Linked DNA regions of Homo sapiens: regions 1, 2, 3, 4, 5 and 6 are each linked to region 7. Evidence: fine-mapped expression QTL. A gene starts in region 7. Each other region holds a variant in brackets. All regions are shown on one strand. Distances are from middle to middle.

Evidence for each region.
Region 1: its variant is fine-mapped to the expression of FAM107B in monocytes (TOPMed, PIP above 0.99). The same link has a PIP of 0.9 or more in whole blood.
Region 2: its variant is fine-mapped to the expression of FAM107B in lung (TOPMed, PIP 0.94).
Region 3: its variant is fine-mapped to the expression of FAM107B in whole blood (TOPMed, PIP above 0.99).
Region 4: its variant is fine-mapped to the expression of FAM107B in spinal cord (GTEx, PIP above 0.99). The same link has a PIP of 0.9 or more in caudate, hippocampus and putamen.
Region 5: its variant is fine-mapped to the expression of FAM107B in whole blood (INTERVAL, PIP above 0.99).
Region 6: its variant is fine-mapped to the expression of FAM107B in whole blood (TOPMed, PIP above 0.99).

The regions. Positions count from the first base shown.
Region 1 is chr10:14,656,097-14,660,517 of GRCh38, forward strand. The region is part of intron 2 of FAM107B (family with sequence similarity 107 member B); the gene reads right to left. It overlaps LOC105376429 (a long non-coding RNA gene), which reads left to right. Exons shown (of 5, transcript XR_930691.4): 4 at 73-128; 5 at 3,840-4,421. Among named protein-coding and RNA genes, the nearest start is that of FAM107B, 120 kb to the right of the region's middle. RefSeq lists an enhancer at 3,951-4,040. The variant C/G (reference allele first, on the strand shown) is at 2,183.
Region 2 is chr10:14,617,400-14,621,820 of GRCh38, forward strand. All of the region lies in intron 2 of FAM107B (family with sequence similarity 107 member B), which reads right to left. Among named protein-coding and RNA genes, the nearest start is that of FAM107B, 160 kb to the right of the region's middle. The variant C/T (reference allele first, on the strand shown) is at 1,859.
Region 3 is chr10:14,608,443-14,612,863 of GRCh38, forward strand. All of the region lies in intron 2 of FAM107B (family with sequence similarity 107 member B), which reads right to left. Among named protein-coding and RNA genes, the nearest start is that of FAM107B, 160 kb to the right of the region's middle. RefSeq lists an enhancer at 290-339. The variant G/C (reference allele first, on the strand shown) is at 2,074.
Region 4 is chr10:14,570,274-14,574,694 of GRCh38, forward strand. All of the region lies in intron 2 of FAM107B (family with sequence similarity 107 member B), which reads right to left. Among named protein-coding and RNA genes, the nearest start is that of MIR1265, 140 kb to the left of the region's middle. RefSeq lists a silencer at 2,164-2,213. The variant G/T (reference allele first, on the strand shown) is at 1,941.
Region 5 is chr10:14,670,148-14,674,568 of GRCh38, forward strand. The region is part of intron 1 of FAM107B (family with sequence similarity 107 member B); the gene reads right to left. Among named protein-coding and RNA genes, the nearest start is that of FAM107B, 100 kb to the right of the region's middle. The variant A/AT (reference allele first, on the strand shown) is at 1,957.
Region 6 is chr10:14,650,275-14,654,695 of GRCh38, forward strand. All of the region lies in intron 2 of FAM107B (family with sequence similarity 107 member B), which reads right to left. LOC105376429 (a long non-coding RNA gene) reads left to right here and starts at 2,473. Exons shown (of 5, transcript XR_930691.4): 1 at 2,473-2,559; 2 at 3,560-3,692. The variant T/G (reference allele first, on the strand shown) is at 2,402.
Region 7 is chr10:14,772,461-14,776,881 of GRCh38, forward strand. FAM107B (family with sequence similarity 107 member B) reads right to left here and starts at 2,437. Exons shown (of 5, transcript NM_031453.4): 1 at 1,793-2,437. The coding sequence starts at 2,203.

The DNA of each region.
Region 1 (4,421 bases), 120 kb before region 7:
TGTGCAGGAACGACTTTAGGACAAGTCCTTTAATGTCTTTTCAACCTGTTCTGGCCCCTGTGCTCCTCCTAGATACAAATTCTGGAGCAGCAACTGATTTACCAGGAAACACTGAGGAGTAGAGCAAGGTAAGGTGGCTCCTACACCACTCCGAACCAGTGTGGGGCATGGGGGCGATAAAGAGGCTGACTTCACAGGGAACTTCCAGGGCCAAAATTTCACTTCATTTGAAGGTTTTCAGGAAAACATGGGTAAATTGCAAAAGCAACGCCAACAATTACCATCTTTGAGATTTGAAAACTTTGGATTTTCTCTCTTGGGAGGCTTTGTGACCACCAGTTGAAATTTCTAGATGACAATTTCCACCTTCCATGTCATCAGAATGGAAGGAGAGGTGCACTCCAAGGAGACAAGTGACTGGACATTCGGGTTCCTGGCATGCAATACAAGTTCTTCTTTTTATACCAATGTGGGGGAAGGAAGTGAGAAGTAAGAAGTGGGTAGAGAGATTCCTCCAGGATGCAAACAGTTAAAGATCATCACTTTACTTCTGATTTTGGATGTTAATGTCACCTTCAGAATTCCTCCTTCTCTAAGAAATTTTTACAAAGGGCCAACATTAAATTTTAAACAAACAAATAAGAAAATAGTAAAAGAAAGTGAAAGAGTGTAGAAACGCAGCTTGCAGCACACACAAAAAATTAGGCAATTCTGCTTCAATTTGTGCACACTGAAAATTTCATTCCTGGTAACCGGTAACTGGTTCACCTTACAACCTGGGCAAACTTCTGGAAAGTTCCATGCCTCCATTCCCACTGTGTTAAGAGGACATAGGATTGGATGGAGAAGAATAGGTCATACTAACTAGACTACTGAGGTGTCCCATGGGCATGTGAGCACAATGTCAAGGCTAAACAGCTTGCTGCACAGGTGCAGCTCAGCTCCTCTTTAAGGCACATGTGCCCAGTCCATCAACACCACATCAGGCTCACCTTGAATACAGAGGACTAAATCAAACCCTCATTTTAGGTATTTTTGTATTTTCCCATTTATGAACAATAAATGATCTGTTAAATTTCCTAAACAGAAAAATCTGGAAGCAATTTGCTCTCTGCCCATGTAGAGAGGGGAAAGCACAGACTGCTCTCCAATGACTCTGAGGAGGATGAATGACAGGGTTTCCAAACCCTGAGTGGTAACACCACTTAACAGATTCGGCCTAGGAGGGTGCTTTGTACTTGGAAATCCTATCTCATTAGCCTGACACCTTCTCAAGGCAAAATGGCAGAGGACTGGACACAGATTGGCACATCTTGAAATAGGCAGGCCAGGAAGTCTCGTTCACTTCAGACTAGGAGCATACCATTGCTGGCCTTACCCTCCCAAAGACAGACACCTCCAGCCCCAAATCTTCACCCCCACCCCTGGTCACCAGAGAAACATCTCCTTGGATTCCAGGGCAATTTCCACAGACTTAGCATGTGGAAATAAATCTAGAACCTAGATGGAAAACCAACCAACTTTCTCCTACTTACACTTAATAATGCAAGATTTATAAATGAGTTCTAGAAACATTTTCTCTTTGTTAATATATATTACAGCCCGTGGCCTCTTGTTCACTGGTGTTTTAAGTTCTTGGAACAGGGATTGTATGACTTTCATGTCTATGTTCTTCTAATAAACCTCCAGCAACAAGCATGTTGCCACCTTCACTTTTTTTTTTCCTTTTTTTTGAGGCTGGTCTCACTCTGTCGCCCAGTCTGGAGTGCAGTGGCGCGATCCCAGCTCACTGCAGCCTTGGCAGCCCAGACTCAAGAGATCCTCCCACCTCAGCCTCCCAAGTAGCTGGGACTGCAGTCACACACCACCACACCCGGCTAATGTTTTCTCTTTTTTTGTAGGTTGGGGTTTTGTCATGTTGCTCAAGCTGGTCTCCAACTCCTGGGCTCAAGCAATCCACCCACTTCGGCCCCCCAAAGTGCTGGGATTACAGGCGTAATTAGCACCTGGCTAACCTTCATTTCTTGGGAAGAATTTATACGACAGTGAAAATCCAATTACTATTATTTGAAATAGAGACAAAATGTTGAGATTCTTTAGACTAAAATACAAGCTATGATAGTTGAGTCCCATAAAAGAGTTTAGAGGTCAGGTCTTCACTGAAAGTCATCATCTACAACCC[C/G]CAGGAGCATTTCCCCTAAGAAAAGACTTCCTGTGACCCCACAGACTGTCCTACGGTTAAGGGAACAGAAAGAAAGTAAACTCAGGACAAAGGAAGTCTATTTAGCATCTTGAAGGCAAGACCCATGTCTGACCCATGTCTGACTCATCTTTGACTCTCCGTGGATTAGCATGGTTTGCTTTATATGTGTTAAGTACCCAAATAAACAACAGTTTTTACATCAAAAGTCACGTTGTAAACCAGACTCAATCATTCATTCATGCATGCATACTTTAGTCAAACAACCATTACTTTTCAGTTCCTACATAGTCCAAGAATTGTGCGAGGAGCTGGGGGCAGAAAACAAAGAGAAAAAGACGCAATTCCAGTTTCTGACTCATCTGCTTCACTTGATTTAGCCAAAAGGCCAAGAAGTGATTGATTCATCTACTTGCTTCAGCAAGTTTAAAAAGAGCAAGGGTTCATTCCCCATTTAATAAATATTCACTGAGTGCCTCCTATATGTCAGGCTCCATCCTAGGCATTCATTATGTTTGCAGCAGGACAAAAAATGGTCAAACATCCCTGCCTTCATGATGCTTACCTTCTAGAAGGGGACGACAGACAAAAAGCAAGTGAATTATATAATGTGTGGATAGTGACAAGTGGTTTCAAAAACCAAAACAAACAAGGAAGTAAGAGTTGAAGGAAAGGTTGCAGTTTTGCAGAAAGTGGTCAAGGAAGCTCTCACTGAAAACAAAGACCCAACAGAAGGAGCTGTGCAGACCAAAAAGTCCCATAAAGAGTCTGGGGACCAGGTCTTCACTAAAAGTCCTCTACTATCCCCAGTAGCATTTTCCGTAATTAAAGGCCTCCCATGAACCCTCAAACTGTCTGCCCTGGCTGGGCACGGTGGCTCACACCTGTAATCCTAGCACTTTGGGAGGCTGAGGTGGGTGGATCACCTAAGGTCAGGAGTTTGAGACCAGCCTCACCAACATGGCAAAACCCCGTCTCTACTGAAAATACAAAAATTAGCTGGGCATGGTGGCGCGCACCTGTAGTCTCAGCTCCTCCGGAGGCTGAGGCAGGAGAATTGCTGGTGGGGAGGGGGCAGAGGTTGCAGTGAGCTGAGATTGCCCCACTTCACTCCAGCCTAGGTGAAAGAGCAAAACTCCGTCTCAAAACAAAACAAAACAAAACAAAACAAGCAAACAAAAAACTGTCTGCCCTAAGGTTAAGGGAATGGAAAGAAAGCAAACTCAGGATAAGTTTCCCTTCTTTTTTTCTCACCTTCCTACCTCAACTGTTTTCTGTTCATCTGTGGCCAAAGACTCAGAAAAATCTGTATGGAAGATAAACAACTCTTGCACAAAATCAGAGGGGTGTGTGACTGAGATATAGTGGGTTCTGGTGGAAACTGCACTGTTGACTGTTCTCCCACGACATGAAAGTAAAAGCAGACACTTTGTCTGAATTGTCAGAAAATGGGTCTCGTTTTGTCACCTCCTAAGATGCCCAGCAAGGAGATCTGAACTCCAAGTGTCATGGACCTTCCCGCAGAGGGGCTGGCCTTATGTGCGCAGCAACAAGGAACTGCTCAGTGGAACCCCAGTCTCACTTCCCCACAGAAGTTACAAAAATACTTATTTTTTTTTCTCATTTCATCCATTTTTAGGTAAAGAATTTTAACTGTTTGGGGTTCGTTACTTCACACTTAAGAAATCTACAAACCACAGGAAATGAAACTTGACTAAATGCAGATGACACAGACAGCCAACTCCGAAAATGTGCTGGGCTCCACTCAGTTCTAGGTGACCTTTAGCAAAAAGAGGGTGTTCTGATGAAACCCTTTGACCATAACCAACAGCCTCCAACTTACAGGATTCTCCCCTCGTATGACCAAGTGGTGTAATCTTTGAGGTCCTGGCAGCACAGGTTGAGTGCAACCTAAAAGAGAATGAGGATTCCACAAGGTCTTCTGGAATGGTACACTTATTGGAAACTTGTTTCAGCATTCAAAAAAACCTGGCCTGTTTCTAAAGCAATGCATGGTTTAAGAGGAATGGCAAATTGAAGCCAACGTTTTTCAAACACATTTCACTTAAAAAAAAATGGCCACTAGAAAGAATGCAACTTATTTTCAAAAAGAATTATCTCAAGAAAGCATGGTTGGCCCATTCATCCATCTCCCTGCCCACAAGGGAATGAATGAATGAAGACAAGATGTGCCACCTCTGAAAGACTGTTAATCTCCCTC
Region 2 (4,421 bases), 160 kb before region 7:
GAAGTGAGGGAGAGCCTGGGTCTTGCTCACAAGGAGTCAAGCCACTCAGGAGACACTGTCTTTTCAAAAATGGTCTAAACTGAATATGATTTAACATAAAATTGTACATTCTGGCATCTGAAGCTTAAGATATCCTAATTTCACAATTGATGGCTGCTTAGAAGTGATGAAACACGTAAGTGGCTATCTGTGTTTGAGCAGAGACAAAAGTAAAACTGTGTGCTCAGAGCTTCAACACATGTAAAGCAAGAGCAAGCTGTCCTGGTAGGGAAGAAAGGACACTGCTGCATCTAGGAAGGTGCTGTCCGGTCAGGAGTAAAGAATAAACAACTAGAGACAGTTTCAGGTAGACGCCAAAAAAAAAAAAAAAAAAAGGCCTGAGACAGGCCCATGACCCAGAGTTTGGTGCCTAATTACCATGGTGGCGCATGCCTGTTTTCCCAGCTACTTGGGAGGCTGAGACAGGCGAATTGCTTGAAGCTGGGAGGTGGGGTTTACAGGCGTGAAGCACCAAACCCAGCTTCTTGAAGTGAAATTTATATACAGTAAGATTTACTCTTTTTAGTCTACAGATCTATTAATTTTGACTCATGTAATACAGTTGTGTAACCACCTCCACAATTATCATAGGGAATATTTCACCACCTAAAAAAGTTGACTCATGTCCCCTTGTGGTGAGTTCCCTCCTCCCCACCCACAGTCTCTGCAATTTTTGCTCCATAGTTCTCCCTTTTCCAGAATGCAACATGAAGGGTATTATACAGTTCAGTCTCCTTCAGGGCTGCTTTCACTTCACAAGACGCTTTTGAGATTTCTCTATGTTCTTGGGTGTATCAGTAATTCGTTCTTTTTATTTCCAAGTGGTATTCCATTGTATTGTTTATCTCAGTTTATCCATTTACAGTTGATGAACTTGGCTTGTTTGCAGTTTGGGGTGACTATGAATAAAGCCGTTATAAACATCTCACACAGGTCTGTGTGAGAACATATGTCATATGTTTTCATTTCTCTTGGGTAAAAACCTAGGAGTGGGACTGTCGGGTTGTATGGTATTATGGGTTGGATTCTGTCCCTTGCCCCCACGCCCCCCAAAAAGATGTTGAGGCCTAATCTCCAGTCTTCGAATGTGACCTTATTTGGAAATAAGTCATTACGGGCCGGGCTTGGTGGCTCATGCCTGTAATCCCAGCACTTTGGGAGGCCAAGGCAGGTGGATCACTTGAGGTCAGCAGTTCAAGACCAGCCTGGCCAACATAGCGAAATCCCGTGTCTACTAAAAATACAAACATTAGCCAGGCATGGTGGTGTGAACCTGTTATCCCAGCTACACAGGAAGTTGAGGCAGGAGAGTCGCTTGAACCCGGGAGACAGAGGTTGCAGTGAGCCGAGATGATGCCATTGGGTACCAGCCTGGGCGACAGAGTGAGACTGCTTAAAAAAAAAATAGTCACTGCAGATGATGTAATTAAGATGAGGTCATATTGGAGTACGGTGGCCCTTAATCTGACTGGTAAGTATCCTCATAAGAGGAGACGAGACACAGAAACAGACACGCAGGAAGAAGATGGTCTTGTGACAACAGGGGCAGAGATTGGAGTGATGTATCAATAAGCTAAAGGGTGCCAAGGATTGCCAGCAAGTACCAGAGGTTAGAAGACATGAGGAAGGAAACTCTCCTATAACCTTCAGAGGGAGCTTCAGAGGGATTTAGAGGGAGCACCGCCTGTAGATCCCTTCATCCAACACTTGTAGCCACCAGAAGTGCGAGAAATAAATTGCTGTTGTTTTAAGCCACTCACTTTGCGATACTTTGTTACAGCAACCCTAGGAAAATAAGGCAGTACGGTCAGTCGGTGTA[C/T]ATTTCACTTAATGGGCACTTTTTCCCAAAGTGCCCATATTGACGTTCCCACCAGCAATGCATGAGAGTCCTGGTTGTTCTATGATCCATCAGCAGTCGACACTAGCAGTGTTTTTCATTTTAGCCATTCTAATAGGTGAAGAGTGGTTTTAATTTTTATTTTTCTAATGGCTTATTATGTTGAGCACCTTTTCATGTGCTATTTGTCATCCATATATCTTCCTTAGCGAAGCTTCTGTTCCAGTCTTTTATCCAGTTTTTATTGGTTGTGTGTATTTTCTTAATAAGTTGTAAGAGTTCTTTTACAGGCATGTGTTTTCTAAATATTTCCTCCCCATCTATGACTTCTCTTTTTATTTCCTTAACAATGTATTTTGAAGAAGAAAAAACTTTAAATTTGAAGGCTTATTTATCCATGCCTTCTTTTACGATTTGTGTTTGTGTCCTAGCTAAAAAAAAAAAAAAAAAAAAAAACCTTTGCCCAAGCTAAGCACACAATTACATTCTCTTATGTTTTCTTTTAGAAGTTTTATAGTTTTTGCTCTTACATTTAGGTCTATGACGTATTTCAAATTAATATTTTCATATGGTGCTAGGCAATGGTGTAAAGGTTGAATTTCTTTTTTTTTCATTAGTATACAGATGTTCCATTGTTTGCTTTTTGAAAGGACTATGTCTTATACATTGATGAACTTGGTAGCTTTGTTGCAAATCAGTTGACCGTGTAAGTGTCTATCTACGTCTGGACTTTCTTTCTTTCTTTTTTTTTTTTTTTTTTTTTGAGATGGAGTCTCGCTCTGTCGCCAGGCTGGAGTGCAGTGGCACAATCTCGGCTCACTGAAACCTCCGCTCCCAGGTTCAAGCCATTCTCCTGCCTCAGCCTCCTGGGTAGCTGGGACTACAGGCGCGTGCCACCATGCCCAGCTAATTTTTGTATTTTTAGTAGAGACGGGGTTTCACCATGTTGGCCAGGATGGTCTCGATGTCTCGACCTCGTGATCCGCCCACCTTGGCCTCCCAAAGTGCTGGGATTACAGGCATGAGCCACCGCGCTTGGCCTATTTCTGGATTTTCTATCCTGTTCCATGTCTCTGTATATCTAACCTTTCATCAACACCACCCTTTCTTATTTGTATTACTTTACAGTAACTCTAAAATTCAGGTTTTGTGAGTCATCTAACTTTGTTGTTCTCCAAAATTATTTTGGTTGTACTAGGCCCTTTGCTTTCATATACATTTTAGAATAACGCTGATTTTTTTCAAAATGCTTACTGTATTTTTTTTATTATTATAATTTAAGTTCTGGGATACATGTGCAGAACATGCAGGTTTCTTACATAGGTATACACGTGCCATATTGGTTTGCTGCACCCATCAACCCGTCAACTACATTAGGTATTTCTCCTAATGCTATCCCTCTCCCAGCCCGCCATCCCCCCACAGGCCCTGGTGTGTGATGTTCCCCTCCCTGTGTCCATGTGTTCTTATTGTTCAACTCCCACTTATGAGTGAGAACATGCCGCATTTAACTGATGTCTTAATATATAGTCTTCTGACACATGAACATAGTATATCTCTCCATTTATTTAGGTCTTGTTCGATTTCCTTATCAATGTTTTGTACTTTCCAGCATACAAACCTTACATACATTTTGTTAAAGTAATCCCTAAGTATTTCTTGGTTTTGATGTTATTGTAAATTATACATTTTTAGAATTTCAATTTCCAATTATTTATTGCTTGTATTTAAAAATACAGTTGATTCCCACAGATTGACCTTGTATCTTATGAACTTGACAAACTCACATATTATATTTCTTAGTCATTTTTTAAATAGTTCTTTGGGATTTTTAATGTAGATAATCATGACTTTTGCAATAAAGACCATTTTATTTCTTAGGTTCTCTGTTTTTTTAAATTTGGCATTCTTTTCAGGGAATTTCAGGGAAGAGGCATGTCCACAGCCAGTGAGGAGAGTGAGATTTGGTTTCACATTTCGATGTTTTGAAAGCAACATTAAACTGCTGTTTATATTATGTAGACTCCTTTCTTACTTTTTCTGTTTAACAGAAAAATTCTGTGGCCCTGTTATTTGTGTTCTGTGACTGACTCCTACTGCAGACTCTTTGATTCTAGATCTTAAGTGTTCAAACTATAATATTCCCTTTGGATGAAATATTTCCTCCTGTGGTCCACTTTTTAAAACGTATATGAAATGGGACATTTTGTGGCTAGACATAAGCCAACGCCACAGGGCAAGGAAAAATTAAAACAAGACATTTGATTAAAGAGTGAAGACAAGGAATTAAAGAATATAAAAAGGAAACTAATTTTTACCTTAGTCAGGCTGCAATTCTATTAAAAGAAACAGGATACATGGCCCTGAGAACTCCCCTAGGTTCCCAGACTAGAAGCATCTGTTGATTTGAAGCTGGGGAAGAGAGGAAGGAGCATAAACAAGATTTGAAACAGGATTTGGCTTTTTTTGAGGCCTTCCCAGCCGATGTGGGGTGGCACCAGCCCCATTCCACAGCTCGCTTGTTAGCTGCTGAAAGCGGAGTATA
Region 3 (4,421 bases), 160 kb before region 7:
TCAGCTGCGATATCTTATTTCTGCCCCATGTGGCATTAGCTTGGCTCTGTCATGTGTTTGCAGTCAACTGGGAGGTTGGCCAGGGACTGGCTTGCCCTGGGTGGTCTCAAAGTCCAGAAGTTGATGGCAGCTGTCAGCTCAGGCATCTCAGATCCACTTGTATGGCCTCTCAGCAGGCTAGATAGGACTTCCTCACACAACAGCCCCGTCCAGGAGGGCGAAAGAGGAAGTGGTAAGGCCCCTGGAGCTCTAGCGTTATGGGTCTAGAAGAATGATAGAAGTCTGTACATTCTACCATTAAAAATGTCACAAGGTCAGCCCAAATCCAAGATTTGGAGAAAGAGACCCCCCTTGATGGTAGAAGCAGTAGTCATATTGCAACAGGGCTTGAGTGCTGTACTAGGAGAGGAGGAATTCTTGTGACCATCCTTGCAAATAATCTTCCTCTGAATCAGACATGAGGAACTACAGAATGGAGGGCAAAGTAACAGGTGCTAACAATAGTCTCAAGGGAAATCTTTCTGATGATAAGACAAAAGCACTTTGGTATTCAACATAAAACCCACAAAGACAGATACAATACATTGGTATTGGCCTCATGGCCTCAATTGATAGGTCAAAGAAAATAGTTAATTTCTGCTTATTTGTTTTTGGTTTAAATAAGAAAAAGATGGGGGAAAGAAAAAACAACAAACGCTTTGGGACTATAATGCAACTAAGGTGCATTGGGTTCTAAATCAGTGTTTTAGATACCTATTGCTGCATAACATCTTACCATAGACTTAGTGGCTTATAACACCCACATATTGACTCGTCCTTTTTTTAGTCCAGAAATGGCATGACTGGGGTCTATGCTGAAGGCCTCCCAAAGCCAAAATCAAGATCTTGGCAGGGCTCATAGTTCATCTTGTCTGGAGCTCAAGGTCCTCTTCTAAGGTCATTCAGATTGCTGGCAGAATTCAGTTCTTTGTGGTTATAGGACTGAGGACCCAGTTTCTTTGCTGGCTGTCAGCTGAGAGCTACTCTCAGCTGCTAAAGGCTAAAGGCTGCCCAGAAACCTCATCATGTGGCCCTCCCCATCTTCCAGTCAGCAGTGTCTCAGCAAATCCTTCTATGCTTCCAATCTCTGACTTGGCCATCTAGGGCTCTAGACTCAGACTTAAAGTGCTCATGTGATTAGGTCAGGCACACCCAGATCATCTTCCTATCTTGACAGGTAACTGACTTGAGACCTTCCTTACATCTGCAAAATCCCATCACAGCAATAGCTAGATTAGGGTATGACTGAATAACTGGAGAAGTTGTGTGTATACCAGAGGCCAGGAATTGTGGAGGCTATCTTAGAATTCTATGACAGATGGAAGGACAGGCAAACAGACAGATGCTCTTTAATATAAACATAGAATGTGAGGGCAGGCAGAAGGTGGAAACCTTGGAGAGGTATCACATGCAGAGCTCAGCAGTAAACCAGGAACCAGGCCTAAGAAGGAATTCTTATTGAGTAATAACCGAATTCCCACATGGTCCGTTCAGTGGTTACCAAGTCTTCATTGACCCCTGATGACCTGAATACTGAAAACAATAGGGAAAGGAAAACGAAGTTAAGAATATGGCATCTAGGCCGGGCACGGTGGCTCACGCCTGTAATTCCAGCACTTCCGGAGGCCGAGGCGGGTGGATCACGAGGTCAGGAGATTGAGATCATCCTGGCTAACACGGTGAAACCCCATCTCTACTAAAAATACAAAAAATTAGCCAGGCATGGTGATGGGCGCTTGTAGTCCCAGCTACTCGGGAGGCTGAGGCAGGAGAATGGCATCAACCCGGGAGGCAGAGCTTGCAGTGAGCCAAGATCACACCACTGCACTCCAGCCTGGGTGACAGAGCAAGACTCCACTTCAAAAAAAAAATAAAAAAGAATATGGCATCCTAATTTTATCATTTAAATAGCATAATCATGTAAATATAACAGAAGTCCCTTTATTTTGCTTAACTGTTTTGCACAATTGTTGTATGACGTTAATGTAATATTCCATAACTCAGGAAGATAATGCCTTTCAATAAAGAGACTTA[G/C]AGAACTCATTTGTGGAAAATCTTTGTGAAAAGTTGTGTGGTTTGCCAAGCAAATATAGCACATGCATACCTTTTTAAATTAATAGTACTTAGGAAGGATCAAAATGATATGCCCAAATCTGAAAGAACATGCTAGAAACCAGATGATAAGCTGTTTCATTAAAAGAGCCTCTGTGCATGAGCATTTGTGATCACAGGAATGGAATTACTTCATTAAATATGCTAACAGCACCAACAGTAAAGATGAGTATTGTCCCCTGCAGTAGTTATCCACTACAAAAGCATTTTGCAAGCTCCAAAACAGAGCTGTATTTCATAATGTAACTGAGTACTTTGCCAATTCTAGAGAGTTTAAAAATTCAGGAGAGTTTTATTTTCCAAACATTTAATATATGTACTGCCTAAAACACTTAATTTCGTTTTTAAAGAACACTTGCTTTTCATTGTTCACAATTTTAAAATCAAAGGGACTCTATGAAATGGTGGTTCTAACTTGTAACTGCACATCGCGAAGAATCGAGAGAAACAGCTGTTACTCACATAAACGACTACTGAATGATGCAAAGATCTGCATTTTACGTTTTTTTCTTTACATGAATCCAAAACCAGAAAAAAGGATTTCCTGAGAGTCTTCCTGTGTATTAAAACTAAAATCTCTAAATAGCAAAGAGAGGGGAACAAAATCCTTAAGCGCTCATCCTGTCAAAAATATTAAGGTAACTTAATGGTCGACACTAATGAGTAAACAAACCATCTCTGCAATTAAGCAATATGAAGATAATTTCTGTAAATTTCCTAATTCAAATAACTGACATACAATACAAATGGCCAAATTTCTGTGAACATTCTACAGTTTGCTCCAACTTTTTTTTCTTCTTTCTGATATTCGCTCTAGATACAGACATTTCCATTAGCGGGAAGTATCCTTTGGAATGCTTATATTATTAATAACTAGTTGAATGCCAGTTTTATATATATATATATATATATATATATATATATATATATATATATTCACCTAACTTCTATTAATTGCAATAAAATAAGTTCATGGAAGAATGGAAGGAAGGCTAGGCTAGGACTAAAGAGATCTGCCTGGTGACCTCGGATAAGAAACTTATCCAAAGCTTCAGTTTCCTCTGGACTTAACAGTAAATGAATTCATAGTTATTTCTGTAGTCCAGAAGTGGCACGGCTGCATTCTCTGCTGAAGGCCTCCCAAAATCAAAATCAAGATCTTGGCAGGGCTCATAGTTCATCTCGTCTGGAGCTCAAGGTCCTCTTCTAAGCTCATTCATTTATAAATATGTATAAAAATATATATGCATAAATTTTTCCTTGCTAGTTATTAGCTGGGAGTCACTCTCAGCCACAAAATACATATATTTATATATTTATATCCTCATACATATAAAACATTTATATGTCCTTATACATGTGTGTATATGTGTATGTGTGTGTATGTATGAGTATAAATATATATACATGTTATATACATAAGTCCTTATTTATATAAAAAGTTCCAGCTTTAGTTGTTGTGCTCCCCAGGCTTGTCTGGAAGAGAGAGCTGTGTGATCCACTCCAATCTTAGAAGTAAAGTTCAAACTGCAGCTAATGTTAAATCGTGCCAGAGAAGGTTTACTTATTAACTCTGCTTAGAGAAGTGTGTGACCCACACATTTGAACTGCTAATGATTACTGGACTTTTAAAACTGCTGTTCAAGTAATAACATTCTTCTATTTGTTCCACCAAATTTAACATGAACTAAAATCCTAACTAATGTTAGTGTTAGCTGGATAATATTAATAAAAGTTGGAACTTTATAAGGAAAAAGAGAGAATGAATGCATGATGGAAGGACAGAGTCCTTGGGCAGCTGAGGGCAGTTTCTGGAAAGGTTTTGCAATTCTCCTTGTTCGTCTCTCAGTTGCCATCAGCACTCAGAACAACCTGCCCTGTCCTTCCTTACTTACCCTGTCCAAGATTCCAGCTTGTTCTGGTGGCCTCCTTTTTCTAAGTCCACAGCTAACACACATTGCAGGAAACTGTACTTTGACAGGCACCTGCTTTTCTCAGCTCATTTCTCTCTGCAACAATTGCTTCAGCCATTTGCTATCATTTGTATCATTTCATACACAAATAATTACAAGGACAAAATAAAGAAATACAAAGATATGATAGAACTGTCCTTGTCTTTGACAGACCAAAGAAAATAACAGACCTTTGTCCAAAATGATAAGTGACAGGCTGAGAGACAAAGACACACAGAGAAAGAACAAGTAAAAAAGACTGGGAATAAAAATGGAGACATAACTGTAGATACCCCAAAACTAAAAACAGCATACAAA
Region 4 (4,421 bases), 200 kb before region 7:
TTTATCTAGGTCAACATTAGATTTTTACCCAATATCTGTGTACACCAAGGCCCAGCAGGGCAGGGTGGTTACACAGTGTATGTAGCAAGACAAGCCATAGCCACTGTGAGAATGACTGCCCAAGAGGAAGGAGAGCATTAAATCTCCTTAGACAAGTACCGACAGGTACTGGAAATGCTGTTTCCACAGTGGCCACCCAAGACATTCTCTCCCTAATCCTAACCAAGGAATAAGAAGCAAATTAAAGGCCAGGCACAGTGGCTGACGCCTATAATCCCAGCACTTTGGGAGGCTGAGGTGGGCGTATCGCTTGTGGTCAGGAGTTCAAGACCAGCCTGGCCAACATGGTGAAACCTCATCTCTACTAAAAATACAAAAATCAGCTGGGCATGGTGGCGAGTTCCTGTAATCCCAGCTACTTGGGAGGCTGAGGCAGAAGAATCGCTTGAACCTGGGAGGCAGAGGTTGCAGTGGGCTAAGACTGCACCACTGCACTCCAGCCTGGATGACAGAGTGAGACTCCATCTCAAAAAAAAAAGAAGTAAATTAAACTCAGCACATATCAGTGTTTTGTTGTGGTCATGTGTTCATTTTTTTTTTTTTTTAATCCACAACTGTGAAGGAGGAGGTGATGGCAATGAGCAGAATGCTTTCAAATCAAGTGCTATTTTGCTAAAATCAAATATGTCTTAGCTCAGGCTGCTATAACAAGCTGCCATAGGCTGGGGGCCTTAAACAACACTTGTCTATTTCTCACAATTCTAGAGGCTGGGAAGTCCAAGATCAAGGTGCCAGCAGATCGGGTGTCTGGTGAGGGCTCCCTTCCTGACTGGCACACAGCCACCTTCTGGCTGTGTCCTCACATGGTGGACAGCAGGGAGAGTGAGAAAAAAGCTCTCCTGTCTCTTCTCCTGGAAGCACTAATCCCATTCTCAGGACTCCCCAAGGCCCCTCCTCCTAAAACCATAACATAAGGGGTTCAAATTTCAACATATGCATTTTTGGGGGTGACACACACATTCAGATCATAACAAGTACTTCAAAATATATTATCAGGCCTACAATCTTCACTAGATAGTCAAATTTTACTGGAAATAGATATCTTCAGAGAAAATGCATAATTATCAGGATCCTAGACACTTAATAGAGCATGGATAAAATAATGCAGATAAAAGTTAGTGAATCCAAAAAGAGTTCTTAAAAAGCTAAGTAAAAGGCGACTCATCCAGAGTTTGACAGACATGGTTGGCATCTGAAGAAATTTTAGGAAAAAAAAATAGTTCACAACTACACAAGACACAGCCTATTACAAAGCTCTCTTCCTGGCAAAGACACACTATTCAATACCACTCACTATAACAACATATAATTTTTATTTAGTCTCATACAAGTCTGCTATTGTGTTAACAAGTCTAAGTTCACACAACATTTTCTAGAGAAGGACTACATTATTCAACAGCCATAGAAAAGTCCCAGTGTTTATTCTTACCTCAGATATCTATTTTCTTGTTTATGTTTTAATCATGGGCATTCAAGGTGGTGAAAAATCATCCTTTAGCAAGAGAAGAGTTAGCCCAGGAAGTCATCCCCATCCATGTCACCCATCAAGGCCTAAGTGACGAACGGTTACAGAGACTGACCTAACCTCACCTCAGTAGATATAGGCAGGCTCCTTAAGCCCAAGGTAGCAAATAAAAAGATCGCAGTAAGAATGCACCTTCTGACTGTGGTAGTTCCTTAGAGCGGTGAAGAAAAGCACCCAAAACAAGAATTAACCATCCCCACAAAGAACTCTCTTTCTGGATATCAAAAGAGCCACAGTTCAAGTTCAAAGAGAAACACTCTAGCAACTTCTGAAAGCAGGAACTGTATGCAACTGAATGACCTCATCCGGCACAGAAGCCAGAGCAAACAATGAAAAACAAACCGTACCAACTCTG[G/T]TACCAGTTACTGACCTTCCAGACCAAGAGAACGTGCTGGCAGCACTGGTGAAATGTACTTGTCTGTACAAAAATCAGCTCCTCTACTTGTAAGCAAATATGCACGCAGACTCTCCAGCCCTGGGTGGGTACCAGGTTGCAACACTCACACAACCTGACTGCAGGAAGCATGCGTGAGTCAACCTCCAATTGGAGGAGGACAAGTTCTCGCACTTCTTAGAGCATCACCACAACACCTACAGCATGGAGGCCTGAGACCAATCAGAATGGCCCTCCTGAGGCTGGGATTCATGGCATCACAGCCCACTTTATAAAATGTGCTAAGAATTTTCTATGGGGAAGGGTTATGTTTAACATGGCGGAAGACAGGTGCGGTGGTGTGCACCCGTGGTCCTAGCTACTCCAGAGGATCGCTTGTACCCAGGAGTTTGAGGCTGTAGTGCACTATGATCACATCTGTGAAGAGCCACTGCATTTCAACCTGGGTAACACAGAGACCCCATCTCTTCAAAAAAAAAAAAAAATTTATATATATATATATATATATTAGAGTGTGTGTGTATATATGTTATGTATAGGTGTATGTAGATATACATATATATTAGATTGGAAAAAAACGACAAGCAGAAGGGACTTGAGTTCCAGTCCCAACTCTGCCCAACTATATCTGTATGATCTCTGGGCTGAAGGATCCTCCCCTCTAAAACAAGGAGTTTCCTTCCAGTTCTAGATTGTTATTACTATATTATTAGGAAATAGCAAATATATACCAAAGCAGCAAGAGTGGAATTACCATTGCAGAGGCACATATAGACGCCCACTTGGTGACATCTGGCCCACAAGTACATTTCAACTCCTGCACCAAGCCCAGTGCATGGCAGACACCAGCTACCTCCCAGTGCCGCAGCCCTGCTCAGTCAGTGCACTGTGGAGAGAAACAGGCTTGGTGGAAAGCTCTGAAAACTGTCTGCTATGGTTTCACTCTGTCCCCCAAAGTTCATGTTGAAACTTAATCCTCAATGCAACAGTGATGAGGCCATAAGGGCTCCACCTCATGAATGGATTAATGCTGTTAATGTGGAAGTGGGATATAAAATGGAAGACTTCGGCCCCCTTCCTCTTTTGCCCTTCCACCTTCCACCATGGGATGATGCAGCAAGAAGGCCCTCACCAGATGCAGGCCCTCGACCTTGGACTTCCCAGTCTCCAGAACTATAAGAAACACATTTTTGGCTGGGTGTGGTGGTTCACACCTGTAATCCCAGCACTTTGGGAGGCCAAGGCAGGAGGATCACTTGAGGTCAGGAGCTCAAGATCAGCCTAGACAACCAACATGGTGAAACCCCATCTCTATTAAAAATACAAAAAAAAAAAAAAAAAATTAGCAGGACATGGTGGAATATGCCTGTAGTCCCGGCTACTTGGGAGGCAGAGGCAGGAGAATCACATGGACCCCAGAGGCAGAGGTTGCAGTAAGCTGCATCACCCCACTGCACTCCAGCCTGGGCAACTCCATCTCAAAATAAATAAATAAGTAAATAAGTTTCTTTTCTTTGTAAATTACCCAGTCTGTGGTATTCCACTACGGCAGCATAGAACAGACTACAACAGCATCTATAAACAATGCTGTTTGACTCACACTTGATTCACTTGGATTCCTTCCAAATGATCATTGTGGATACATGATATAAAAACAAACAAACAAAAAAAAAAAACCACCCTAGGGCCCAGGAGTTTATCTGCTCTTTCTCTCATAATCTACCCTTCCCATGACACAGGGAATATTTTGGTGCTCTCAACATGAAATGCCACAAGACCAGGGTAGACACTTAAGGGTTCAGCTTCCAAGCTCTGCTTATAAAAAATGCAAAATCTCAGTTCAGTAAGAACAGGGTTTAGTACAATACACAAACACTACTGAATATGCATGCCACCCTGAGAAAAAATCTTGAATTAGTATGTAATAAATAGATAACAAGGTGATATTCCTCAGGCATCCTGACACAGTTATTCCCAACTGAATCTGTAAGAGTGAACTGTTACTCTTTACATTCTGTACCCTGAGACATCACAATATGTATGCACGGTGGATATAATCTATCCAATATCTCAAAACTGAACCCTAGTTTTGTTGTTGTTTTAACCTACACATTATTAACAAGGATCTTCAGTAGGACATTTTGCAAACCAGTACAAATGTGCCCTGGGCAAACAGCATTTGGGAAACACTGCTCCCACATACACTTGCAGAGTTCCTGCCAATCAGGAGCTTCCACCGTCACCCAAGTGTCAGAACAAAGCCCATGTGGCTGATCACAACTGTCCACCTCTTGGCAGCCCATCAGACTAGCAGGCCAGACATACTGTTTTTATCCAATGGACCACAATTGGCCAAGAGACGAGACTGAGAAAAGGCTTAGCACACAGACCTCTCACAGATTATTAGTACATTTCAGTCAACTCCTAGAAAAAGAATTACGA
Region 5 (4,421 bases), 100 kb before region 7:
TGAATTGATTTCACCTGTGTTGGGAACAAATGTTTTTCCAGAGATCAAAAATCATCTCCAAATATTCATCATCAGAGACCATTTCTAAAAATGTGTCCTACTTTTAAAACCCATAGAATAGTATTGGCATAAGCAATTTGGGTAAATAAGGCCTCAGTTCAATTATCTCAAATGTATGTGTTGTAAGAAATTTTAATGAAAATTGCCTCCAAAATTACATATTTGAAGTGGGTATGAATTAATAGTATACCAAAGAATGTGTAAATAACAGAAAAGCCCCATCACACAGCAAATAAATGCAGTAAGTCATTTCTTGTTTCACAAGGCCTGACAGAACAGTATATAATGAAAACATGAGGAATTATTTTATAATACAGCCACAGGGGAAGTCTCTTGAGAGGCCAAAATAATCCAAATAAAGTCATTTTCAAGATGAAAAGACTCTCCCCTTTGAGCCAGTAAGACTGTTTACTTTTTTATTGCTCTGAATTCCAGAACTGTGAAATAACATAGCCCTTTAGCTCTTCTCCAAACATATTTATTACTCCATCTTAAATAGCCCCTCCCTAAGGTTTCCCTTTGACTAGTAAGAGTTGCAAAGTCCCGCAACAATCTGCAGAGGGAAGGATGTTGGAAATGCTCTTGGTTGGAGAGCTTTCAGCACAGAATAAACAAGCATCTGTCCTCACTAGTATAAACTATGTTCTATTTAGAGAAAAGAAGCTGAGCTCCTTCAATTCTTGTGTCTCTTCTCTTCAGCGCAAGTCTGCAATTTGCTGAATGCGTTCGTAGTGGCTTTTTCCCAGCAAAGCTAGAATAAAATGACAACAGTCCAACTGTAGTAGACATCTGTTGATTTTGCTGCCTAGTACTCACTGACTCACTATCTAGTAAGTGTGTCCTGATTTCCTCTTTAAAGCCATCTCATCCCATCTCATCCCACTCTTAAAGAACTGTGGTTTTCTGTGCTCCGTGAAACCGACTCCTTCCCCACCATCCCACTCCAGGGGTGCAACATATGACCCAGGCCCACGCCCATCAGTCTGCTGCATTTCCCTCTGATTGGTAGAGCGGCTATGTTGTTCCAGGACTGTTCCTTAGTTCAGCTAAAGACAGAGTTCTTTGTCCCATGGCCACGAAAATTAAGGCTTGCAGACAATTTGAAAAGGCTCGCCAACAATTTGAATGGTGAGTAAAACAGGGTTTTATTGGGTGAAAAGGAAGAAAAGGGGGAAACAGGGACTCTTACTAGGTCAGAGTCCCTGCTACAACCCTTCCTGTTGGAATCCCAGGTTACACACAGGAAGAGGAGGGGCCAGGCTCCTCCCTGATGCAAATGGCACGAGCTTCCCGAGGCTCCACCCCAAGTGGGCAGGCTGGTTGGAGGTTTTCTGGGGACCCCCTCCCATCTCGCTGTCTGAATGTGACACACTCAGGGTTAGTGAGACCTAATGAGATTTTTCTCTGGACTTCTGGGAAAATGACTCCTGTTCTTATTATCCACTGGCCCTGAAACCAGAGACAGGGGTTGCAGCTGCTACTGTAGGCACCACCTTGTTATCACGTGCGGCTGAAACTGAAGCCCACACAAAGGAAGGCAGAGCCAAGAGATGCTCCAATGCTTTCTTCTGTTGATATCAACTAAGCCCCAAATTCAGCCACGCCTGAAGCAAGATTAACCCTGGACTTTTCCGCATAAGGCAGCTAATACACTCCCTTTTATTTAAAAAAAAAAAACAAAAAAACAAAAAAAAAACCCTCTATTTCTTTTTAAATCAAACTGATTCCTATCAGGTTTTCTGTCACTTCTAAAAGAATGAGTCCTAACTGATACACCAGTGTAAGAACTCCAGCTCTGGGAAATCAGGAGTCAGGCATGCATTGGTTCTGTACATTGGTTCTGTACCTCCCCTGCCATCATGAGTTTTTTTCTTTCTTTTTATTTTTTATTTATTT[A/AT]TTTTTTTTTTTGAGGCAAAGTCTTGCTCTGTTGCCCAGCAGTGGCGTGATCTCGGCTCACTGCAGCCTCCACCTTCCAGGTTCAAGCGATTCTCCTGCCTCAGCCTCCCGAGCAGCTGGGATTACAGGCACCTGCCACCATGCCCAGCTAATTTTTGTATTTTAGTGGAGACGGGATTTCACCATGTTGGTCAAGCTGGTCTCAAACTCCTAACCTCAGTTGATCTGCCCGCCTCGGCCTCCCAAACTGCTGGGATTACAGGCGTGAGCCACTGTGCCCGGCCCCATCATGAGTTTTACAATGCTTATTAAATCAAATGTGACCACGATGATGTACCAAGAATGTACTATTAAAATTTGTCAAACAAATGGACTTTTCATTTACAGTCGTGTGTTGTCACTTTACAACATGAATATGTGTTTGTTTGTGTTTCTAAACATAGAAAAGGTACAGTAAAAAGATAGTTTATAACCTGATGGGACCTCCATTCTATATGGGGTCTGTTGCTGACTGAAACATTATTATATGGCTCATGACTGTATTTTCCTTGAGGACTAATCCCAAGATGCCTCATTGAAAGGGCATGTGAAACCACACTAAGTTTATACTTAGGGAGTTCAAGGTAAGATTTTGGTACAAATTAGCTTCTTTTCCTAAGGTTCACCTGATTGAACATTAGTAGAAATAAAGAAAGAAGGAAGGAATAAAAAAACTTAAAAACACGAACCAAATACATTCACCAATGTACATCAAGTCATTTTCCTTTGGCCTCATAGTTGGCAACATTGGGAGTTAACATTTCACTCTAGGGCAGCAAGTTTAGAAGCAAAAAGGTAGTTTGTTGGAGACAGAAATAGAATTCCTGACCAATAATTAAAGAGGCTTGGTTCCATTCTTTTAAATGGACACATAATAATCATAGATATTTATGTGTACATGTGATATTTCAATACATGTATACATGTGAAATGAGCAAAGCAGGGTAATTAGCCTGTCCGTCACCTCAAACATCCATCATTTCTTTGTGTTAGGAACATTCAATATCTGTTCTTCTAGCTATTTGAAAATATACAATAAATTATTGTTAACTAGAGTCACCCTGCAGTGCTATAGAACACTAGAAACTATTCCTTCTATCTGGCTGTAATTTTGTACTCATTAACCAACCTCTCCCTATTTTTCCTTCCCCCTAACCTTCCCAGCCTCTGGTAACCACTGTTCTCCTCTCCACTTCCATGATACCAACTTTTTCAGCTCTCACATATGAGTCAGAACATGTGGTATCTGTCTTTCTGTGTCTGGCTTATTTCACTTAATATAATGTCCTCCAGGCTCATCTATGTTGCTGCGAATGAAGGATTTTATTCTTTTTTTAAATGTCTGAATAGTATTCTATTGTATAAGTGCCACATTTTCTTTATCCCTTCATCTGTTGATAGACACTCAGGTTGATTCCGTATCTTTGCTATTGTGAATAGTGCTGCAATAAACACGAGAGTGTAGATATCTCTTTGACATGCTGATCTCCTTCCCTTTGGATGCATACCCAGCAGTGGGATTGCTGGATCATATGGTCGTTCTATTTTTAGTTTTTGGAGAAAACTTCATACTGTTTTTCATAACGGCTGTACTGTAGGAGTTCCCCTTTCTCCGTATCCTTTTCGGCGTTTGTTATTTTTTTGTCTTCTTGATAATCGCCATTTGAACTGGGGTGAGATGATATCTCATTTTGGTTTTGATTTGCATTTTCCTGATGATTAGTGATGTGGAGCATTTTTTTAATATACTTGGCTATTTGTATGTCTTCTTTTGAGAAATGCCTATTCCAATCTTTTGCCTATTTTTTAATCAGATTATTTGTTTTTTGCTTTTGCTTTTTGTTTTGTTTGTTTGCTGTTGAGTTATTTGCGTTCCAAGTATCTCTAGAAAAGAGGGCATCCACATGCAGAAGAATGAAGGTAGACCCCTATCTCTCACCAGATCCAAAAATCAACTCAAAATGCATCAAAGACTTAAACGTAAGACCCGAAGCTATGAAACTAGGAGAAGAAAACATAGGGAAAACACTTCAGCACATTGGTCTAGGCAAAGGTTTTATGGCTAGTACCTCAAAAACAGTCAACAAAAGCAAAAATAGACAAATGAGATTATATCAGACTCCAAAGCTCCTGCACAGCAAAGGAAACAATCAACAGAATGAAGTGACAACCTGCAATTTGGGAGAAAATATTTGCAAACTATTGATCTGACAAGAGATTAACATCCAGAATATACAGGGGCTGTGTTTTTAAAACCCCTTCTCAGCATTGCTCCCTGGGGATGGAGTCCTTCAAATTGCTTATGCACCCTTTATAATGTAAAACCACCACTTTGTTTTTCTCTGCAGTCTAGAGAGACATGTGTTTGCCAGTCTTATCCTCTCCCTGAACTAGGACATTTAGAATGCAGTTCCTTAGGTGGATGT
Region 6 (4,421 bases), 120 kb before region 7:
CATTCTTAACTCTGATTTTTTTTTTCTTTTGCCATTGAGATGGAGTCTTGCTCTGTCACCCAGGCTGGAGTGCAGGAGTGCAGTGGCATGATGATCTGCCTCCCAGCTTCAAGCAATTCTCCCACCTCAGCTTCCCTAGTAGCTGGGATTACAGGTACCCACCACCATGCCTGGCTCATTTTTGTATTTTAAGTAGAGATGGGGTTTCACCATGTTGGCCAGGCTGGTCTCGAACTCCCGACCTGAGGTAATCCTCCCACCCTGGCCTCCCAAAGTGCTGGGATTACAGGCATGAGCCACCGCGCCCGGCCTCTCGATACTTATTTAAGAGTAACAAATACTTATTGCTTACGTATTGTGCTACGTATTGAGCATTCTGGTTTAGTTCCTCCATTCCATAAAACTATGCATCAGTTGTTGTGTTCTGTACTTACAGTTATGGTAAACATTTTTATATCCTACTTCTTTCTACACAGCATTAAATCATTAGCTTTCTTTCTATTTTGTTATATCACTAAATTTCAAGAAGTCGTATATGCTCATAGTAAAAGTAAAAATAATATTTTTTAAAAACTCAACCATATTCCCTTGCTCTTATGCTTACAATGCACTCTACTCCAATTTTAGGATAAGTTCAGCGTTAAGTGTTAATGATAGTGAAGGAAACTTCTAGCGTCTGAGCTACATCCCAGAGTTCCCCAGTAGGATGAAACTCCAGTCACCAAAAATGATACTCTTCCTAATAAGCAATGCTTTATTGGCCTCTTTCTACTACTGACGCTTCCTGAGACAACCTCCAAATTAAGCAAGCTGTACTAGAATCCTTGTCTCAGGGTCTACTTCTGGGGGAACCAAATTAAGACACCACTTGACAACTTTAGCTAGTATATCATTGGCCAGCCCTATCTATAAGGAGCCTGGGAAATATTGTTTTAGAGCTTGGGCTATAACTGCACTTGACAATATTAGGATTCTCTGGCTAAAGAATATGAATATTGGATAAACATCTGGCCATCTCTGCCATGTGTGGATAAGATATATCCACACATGGCTGGGCGCAGTGGCTCACGCCTATAATCCCAGCACTTTGGGAGGCTGAGGCGGGCAGATCACCTGAGGTCGGGAGTTCGAGGCCAGCCTGACCAACATGGAGAGACCCCGTCACTACTAAAAATACAAAATGAGCCAGGCGTGGTGGTGCATGCCTGTAATCCCAGCTACTTAGGAGGCTGAGGCAAAATTGCTTGAACCTGGGAAGCAGAGGTTGCAGTGAGCTGGGATCGCGCCATTGCACTCCAGCCTGTGCAACAAGAGTGAAACCCCGTCTCAAAAAACAAAACAAAACAGATATATCCACACATAACCGTAAATTATGAGCCATAAGAAGGGGACTGGGGAGATTACTTTTTTGTAGGTACTTAATGACTTCCTTGAGACTGTAGAATTTGACTTGCACCCTCAAGGCTAGGTGGGATTTTAATAGGCGAATAGATAATCTGACGGTGTGTAGGGTTTATAAGAACAGGTAAAGCCTGGACACAGAAAGACAAGTTAGGAGATGATGAAAATGGTTTGGGTGTAAGAGAATAATAACCCAAACCAGAGTGTGATACCAAGACTGGAAAATTAGGAATATGTGTGAGAAATACAGCAAAGGAACTCAATAAGATTCATACAGAGGTGAAGTGGAAAGAAGGAATCCAACATGACCTTGAAGCTTGAAGCCAGGATGGAGGGTAGCACCATAAACAGAAGTTGTACAGTCGGAGAGAAGGGCCAAGTTCGAGGGATGTTTGTTGTCTTTGATTCTACCAGAGTTAAACATAATGTTTTGATGGAGTGAAGTCAGATCTAAAACATAGATATTCAACTTCAAATGTTAAAAAAAAAAAGCAGTGACTCTTATTTCTATACTTCATCTCAATCAAAGCATGACTTTCTATGCACATGGAAAATTCCATGAGCTCACCCTCCTGCAGAGCTCCTTCCTGACAGAAACCAGGAGGGTTAGGCTTTCTAAAGAGCACCAGATCCCAGATCCCTGCTGATAAACTCACTAAGTCAGAAAGATACAAAATCAACCCTCTCACTATAGAGAGAAATTCTCAACTCTGTCCAGATACGTATTGGTTTTTGCAGAGCTGCGGAAATAACGAAAATATAGGGGTTTGGACTCAACCAGGCCTGGACTGAGTCCTGGCTCCAGCTCTTTCTTGCCATGCAACCTTGGTTAAATTAACTTTTAAAGCTTGAGTTTTCTTACCTGCAAAGGGGAGAAAATATAGTACTACTTTCTAGGGCTGTTAAGAGAATTAAGTAAAAAATCCATGTAAAGCACTTAGCATGGCACGTTATGCATTGTTCTAAGTGTTCTAAGAACACTACTTAGAAAATGTTAGCA[T/G]TGTTATTGCTATAGTATCAAGGGTAGCGTGGATACCAGACGTTTTGTGTTCAGTTGTGAGAAAAGACTATTTAAGGTAATACGCTCCTGAATGTGCTAAAATCAAATACCGCAGCTGGACCAGATTAACTCAGGACACCACCAGTGGACTAGAATTGGTAGGAAACTGAGAAAGTTATAGTCATCCGAAGGAGTTAATGCAATTATCCATTTTCTTTAAGCCCTTTCAGGTTGTTGGGAGAAACCACATACTGTGAGCCCACTTGCAGCATAGCAGTCATGAAACGAATTCAGGCACAGAAAAAAATGTGATGCATGGACTTCTAGAAACATGGCCATCAGGGTTGAGCGTCATAACTGGCCTTGGCTGAACACAAAACCAAGAAGGCAAAACTCGCAATCCCTGAGTAGAGAGAAGGCTCCATAAATGTTGAATGAACACATGGACAAATTACACTTGTGACCTAATGGTCCACTGCCACGGTATTTACAATTAAGGCCAAATACTAGAATCAGGCCTTTGCAAAATGTGCCCTGACTTTTTGAGTCTTAGAACTGTTCTGTTTCCATGGCTCAGAAAAAGCCAAGGGCAGTTTGTTCTTTTTATCAGTTTCTCCTTGGAGAAGAAAGCTGAAAATTTCCATGATTACCATGCACACTGGAGTTATGCTGATCGAAATCTATCTAAAAGGTGCCAGGCACACAGCCAGGCGGGCAAATGCTCTCAAAGGCAATTTCACATCACCAGCCTTGCTGAGCAAGAACAGAAGCTGTTCTTCACTCCAGCCTCTCAGGAGCACACAGTGGCCTCTCAGTTCCCCTTTCAAGGAAGAGCTCTGGGAGAAAAGCCCATGGTTCGGGAACTTTTCCTGAGACCTCTAAGCACCTGTGCCATCATGGTGCAAGCTAGAACTGTTATTTCTAGCTGTGCAGCCACAGTCATCCATGTGGTTCCATTTCCTTGGTGGCAATGCACAGTTGCAAAATATTTTGTAATTATTCATTACTGAAATCACAAAAATGCCCCTAAAAAGTATAGTATTAGCCTCTTATACACAGTAAAATGTAACCGCGGGAAACTTCAGGGAATTGTGTAAAGATCACTGGGTGAGGTAACGCCCACAAGCTTGAGGCTAGTGTTTTCTCCTGTTTCCATAGCAATGACCCCACACGATCTTACCTGCTCCTCAGACCACAGCCAAGGAAGAGATTTCTGACAAACAAGCAAAAACACAACACTGTCCACACAACTGTAAATATGCAAGGAAGAGTTTCTTCTTGCCTGAAAACTGTAAGGTTTATTATTTGTTTGTGTTTCTTCCTTTCATCTCATATTTCTTCTAACGTCATAAGCCTGGCATTTAAACCCCAAATGCCTGCAGGGGCCAGGCAGGATAGGGAGGTACCAGCTAAAAAGGCAACTCCAGTTGATTTTTTTTTTTTTTCCACTGCTTAGGAATGCAGGCCTGGTTTGGCTAGTTCTTACAATTTCTCAAGAGAAATTGGAACCTAGATTTTTACATGAAATTTTCCAGTTTTTAAACATTGGCAACCAATTTTCAAAAAATTTGCAAGCCACAAAAACACATCTACAGCTGAGTTTGCTCTGGTTGTAACATCAGTCATAAGCAGTTGAAATAACCTTTCGGGTCTTCAGAATTACTTCCTATTTTCTGAATATCTGTGTGGAATATAGACCGCATATTAACCCTAATTATTAATTACAGCTATGCATTAATTCATTAATGAAAGCCATAATTCATTGGAGAAAGGTCTTTAGTAACATATTGCTGTTGCGTTTTATTATCTCTTGCTCTCATCATCTCTCTGTGGTGAAGGATAAGAAATCAGAGGTGATCTTAGCTAGTTTCGTTTAAGACTCTTAGCTGTTGTTTAAGGCTCAAAACAAAATATCTGATTATGTATTCCATTTTGCACAGAAACAAACAGCATTTAATCCAAATATTTTGGCCCACATAGGGTAATTCAAAAATAAATGATTTTATGATTTAAGTCCATT
Region 7 (4,421 bases):
GCACAGCTTAGCTCTCGGTGTTTGAACTAGAATAGATGCCCATTTACCCACATCAGGCCCTCTTCCTGCACCTCCTGGCACTTGATTTCAGTGTTTGCATTGCATCACTGCTTCCCTCCCTGCCTGGTTTGGACCGCACAGTCAACTGCCGCGTGTCCTGCCTCATGGAGCCCCTCCCACTTTATCTCCCTGTTGTTCCTGTCTGGATTGTTACAATGTCCTCTCTGCTCCGGGCTTCCCAACTGTAATCCATCCTACGCTGTGGACCACCCATGGCTTTGCTCCTGCCAAGTGGACACTAAACATGGATGTGGCCCCATTTTGTGTTATTGGTTCTATTTGAATTCACATGCTTGCCTTGAGTCCCTGAGTCCCATGTGCAACTAAAACAGAAAGATAAAATCAAAGTAACCCTTTGTTCTTGCGGCTGTCTTCAGTAATATAAGGTGGGTCTGCATTGCTCAACAGAAAGTCTTCCGGTTCATTAAAACTGTACATCATTGGTACCATAAATATCCAACAAATATCAACTTGGCCATGAATTCTAATCAGCTACCTATAATACTACCAAAAATATCTTAATCTGGATGTGGCTATACACTGAAAATTTTGGTTTTTGCTGGTTGGTTATGGGCTTTGGTTTAGTGGTGCTAGAAAAAAACATAGCAGTTTTTGCTGTGACAGAGGATATGGTAAAACTCTCTGTCCAATTTCAGAATGCAGACGACAGACCCAAGCTTCAGTCATTTCATATAAACCTGCAGGGTGTCAAATGAAACTATTTTTTAAATGATGTTTTAACCCTATCTTTGCTGGTTGGCTGTGTTCTTGCTAAGGAGGCTTCTTAGATTCTGTGAAGCAAGCCAGACCAAAAAATAATTTGTTAAACGGATGTGGAAAAATGATTTAAAAAATCAGAATACTTTAGTGATGGATCCCCAAAGACTTCTCAGTTTTTTAAGTCTGGTCCTAAGCTACTTGGCTAGGAAATGACCAAAAATGGTCAAGAGATATCTTTGGAGTGTACCTTTTAGAAAACCTTTCCTCTACACTGCATCTGCAAACTGGGATTACCGGGAACTTTGAAATAATTGTACAGCTCCATCTAATCAGAATACTCAACAATTAAAATTCACTGATGCCAAAAATGGAAAGAAAATAAGTAAATAACTCTTAAGAGCAGTGGCACCATTTTTTTTAAATAACTTCCTCCTCCTGCCTTCAACTCTCAGAAGATTATCACAAAAACATCCATATTATGAATAGTTTTATAGGTCAGTTCCCTTCCGTACCACTAGGCATACACTGATGATCATTTCCAAATTTTTCCAGACTGCTTTGATATCATGTGATTCATTTTAAGTAGAGGCAGTTTTGTGAATTCCCTAGCCAAACTTTTTAGATTGTGGATTTTCATATAAATAAATTGACAGACCGGTGGGGGTGGAGGGGGAAATAGAAAAAGGAAAAAAATGTTTTTGTAAACTATCTTACTCCTAATCTGTTATTGAGTGAGCCATTTTTGGCTCTAAGGCACCCTAGCCCGTTAATTCAAGGTTACCTTCGGTCATTGCCATGGCTCCAGTGCTTATTATCATTGCCTCATCCACATCTTTTGAGAACACTCTGAGAATCTACACGGCTTTAACACACTTCTTCGCACTAGTGAGAACGCCCGCAATGCCTTATTCAGTAAGGTTAAATGAGTTTGTTTGCTGAAACATTCGCCACATGATCCCAACGCTCCTCCAGCTCCATCCCGTCTATAATCGCAGAGCGAACACTCACTCACCTTGGGCGTGTCAATAATTGATGGTCTGGGGATGGAAGCGTGAAACACCACTGCTTCACAGTCCGCCCCATCATCCAGGGACCCGGGCACATCTTCAGGCGTCTCCGCGGGCTGGGCCGCAGTGCGGTGACTTGAATTCCGATTCGCACTGCCATTTCTCTCTGCATGGGTGCTCGAATCTTGCCTTTTCTCTGGAGCTCCTTCTGCGCTTGGGTGTCTTGGCTGTCTGCCTGCTTTGGCCACAGGCTGCACACGGACGGTGGAATGAGTATCAGCCACGCCGGACTGATTGAAGGAAGCACTCTCCCTCGTATTCCCAAAACAGGCGAGCAGAGCTGAGCACGGAAATGGATGCATGCTTCTAGAGGGAGACTTCAGTCTTTTGGTGAGTCTTGCTTTCCACGTGGACATGACTTGCAGTGAATCATTGCAAAGTTCAAACGGGGCAAGGAAATTTTCCAGGGGTCCACATCACCTCCACTTTGCTTATAGGAACTCTTTCCAATTGCCCGAAGAGAAGAACTTGCTAGTGGTTGCCCCTAAATAGAAGTTGGGATGGCAAGGCCACCTTCCCTGAGAGTCACTTAGCCGCTGGGGCCCCTTTGAAAGTGTCCATCCTGGGCAATTTCGCGCTCTTCCTTCTGTGATGCTGTCAGTGGCTAAAGAAAGCTGTTGGGGAGGCATGTGAGTGGCTCCGGTTACAGTTCCTAGGCAGGGCAGACGCTTCAGGGTAGGGTAGTGCCAAGTCAATAGACAATTGCTTCAGGTTACCTAGGAGGCATAAAGATAATGTAGCCTGATAGCATCTGCCATAATAGCGTCAGCCTGCGTATCAATAACATCATAACAGCAGCAAAACCTTCTTTGGTTACCCCCCTTCAAATATTTATTCCCCCAAACAAAACAAAAACGACCCAGTTGTCCATCACAAATGAAGACCCCTAGAAGGGCCACGACCCTAGCAGCTGTTTCATTATTAAAATAGGAGGTAGACTCAATCTTTCGCCTGGAGAGATGCGGTGTGATGTGTTTTCTGAATCTTTCTGGACTTTTCGGGATCTTTCCGGAATCTTCCCGGAATCTTCCCCCCACCCTCAAAACAAGTTTCCTGGTTTCAGGATCCACATTGCCTTTTCTGATAACTATAAATAGGTCTTTGGTAATTTGATTTTTTTTTTTTTACTAGCTAGGCTAAGTTCTTGATTAGTTTTCAACAATACCAAAAAGAAAAAAGAGAGCCCTACATTAACAATTATCCTTATGTATTATGTTATTATGTGTGGAGGTATTATGTACATGTGAAGTATTCTACCTATATGGTATATATCACCTACTTTCAGAAAGTAACTCCTTTTTGAACATAGATCTTCTGTTTCTCAACACATTAATATGTGAATGGTGAAAAATAATAAATTATAAACATATTCTAAGACAATTCAGAATCAAGATTTTTCCTTAGCCAACTGTCTGCTAGGAATGTTATAGAAATGTAATACTGTAATGCTTTTACCGTTAATAGTGATTTTAGGGTCAAGATTTCTGGGCATGTTACCCACTCTTAATTAATTTGTTTGCTCTCTCTTTTAATTTAATGTCAAGATGTGCTCTTTGGCCCAGACAGGTGGTAGTTATTATATTATGGCACTGATTCCCGTTTTACAGAGGCAGAAACCAATTCTTTGAAATTTCATGTGACTAAGGCAAGTTTATGCCACTAAGAAGGGCTTGTTGGGTGCCCGAGATCCCTGTTCTCCTATCTGTCCTCTGAGTCTCATTCTATCTAACAATCATTTTATAGATGTAATGGCCATACGGGAAATATTGTTCTAAATGGACAGTCATATTCATAATACAAAAAGGCAGATATGGCTTTAGAATGAGTGGATATGGCATCAAATGCACATTTTATTTTAGTCTCTACTGAAAGTTAGAATATAGAAAGCTTCCATTTATTTAGAGGTTACCGTGTGGCAGGCCCCGTGCTATCCAAGCTGTTTCTGGCTTCCCAGGGTTGTGAGCTCATTCTTTTTTCATTGTGTCCCAAGTGCAAGCTGTCCAAATTCCCCACCCATAAGAAATCAGGGGGTTCAGGTTTCTACCAGGGTCCCCCCTCCCAGATATTCCTGGAGACCCCTCGGAACTGCACTTTGTCTCCCATTTGACTTGGTTGCTACAGTCCACTCGGGTCGGGTCGTGCCATGCTGTGCCCCTCCAAGCACACGTATAGTAAATCGGGGCTGTGATGCTGCATAAGACATTTTTGAAGGCTTGGAGGTAACAGGAAGGGATTTAAGAAAAGAAAAATGCACTCTTACACCTGGTTTCATTCACTCATTCATATATTCATTCAATTATGTGTCAAGCCCCTTTTGGAACAGAGAGTCAGCAGTTCACAGTGCAGCTTGCGAGCGGCCACATTCAGGAGACCGCTGAGGAAGAAAGCTCAGAGCCACTTTCTAGGTCTGCGGAGGCCCTGGGCTTGCATCCGGGCTCTGAGGACCACCTCTCCTCGCTCAGTGGGTGTGCTCAGAGGCACGCATGAACTCATCGGAGTTCCAGCACTGGCCCGCTAAGAACAGTAGACTTTCTGATTAGTGTGTTGCTAAGTCTGACCTAGAATAACACTCAG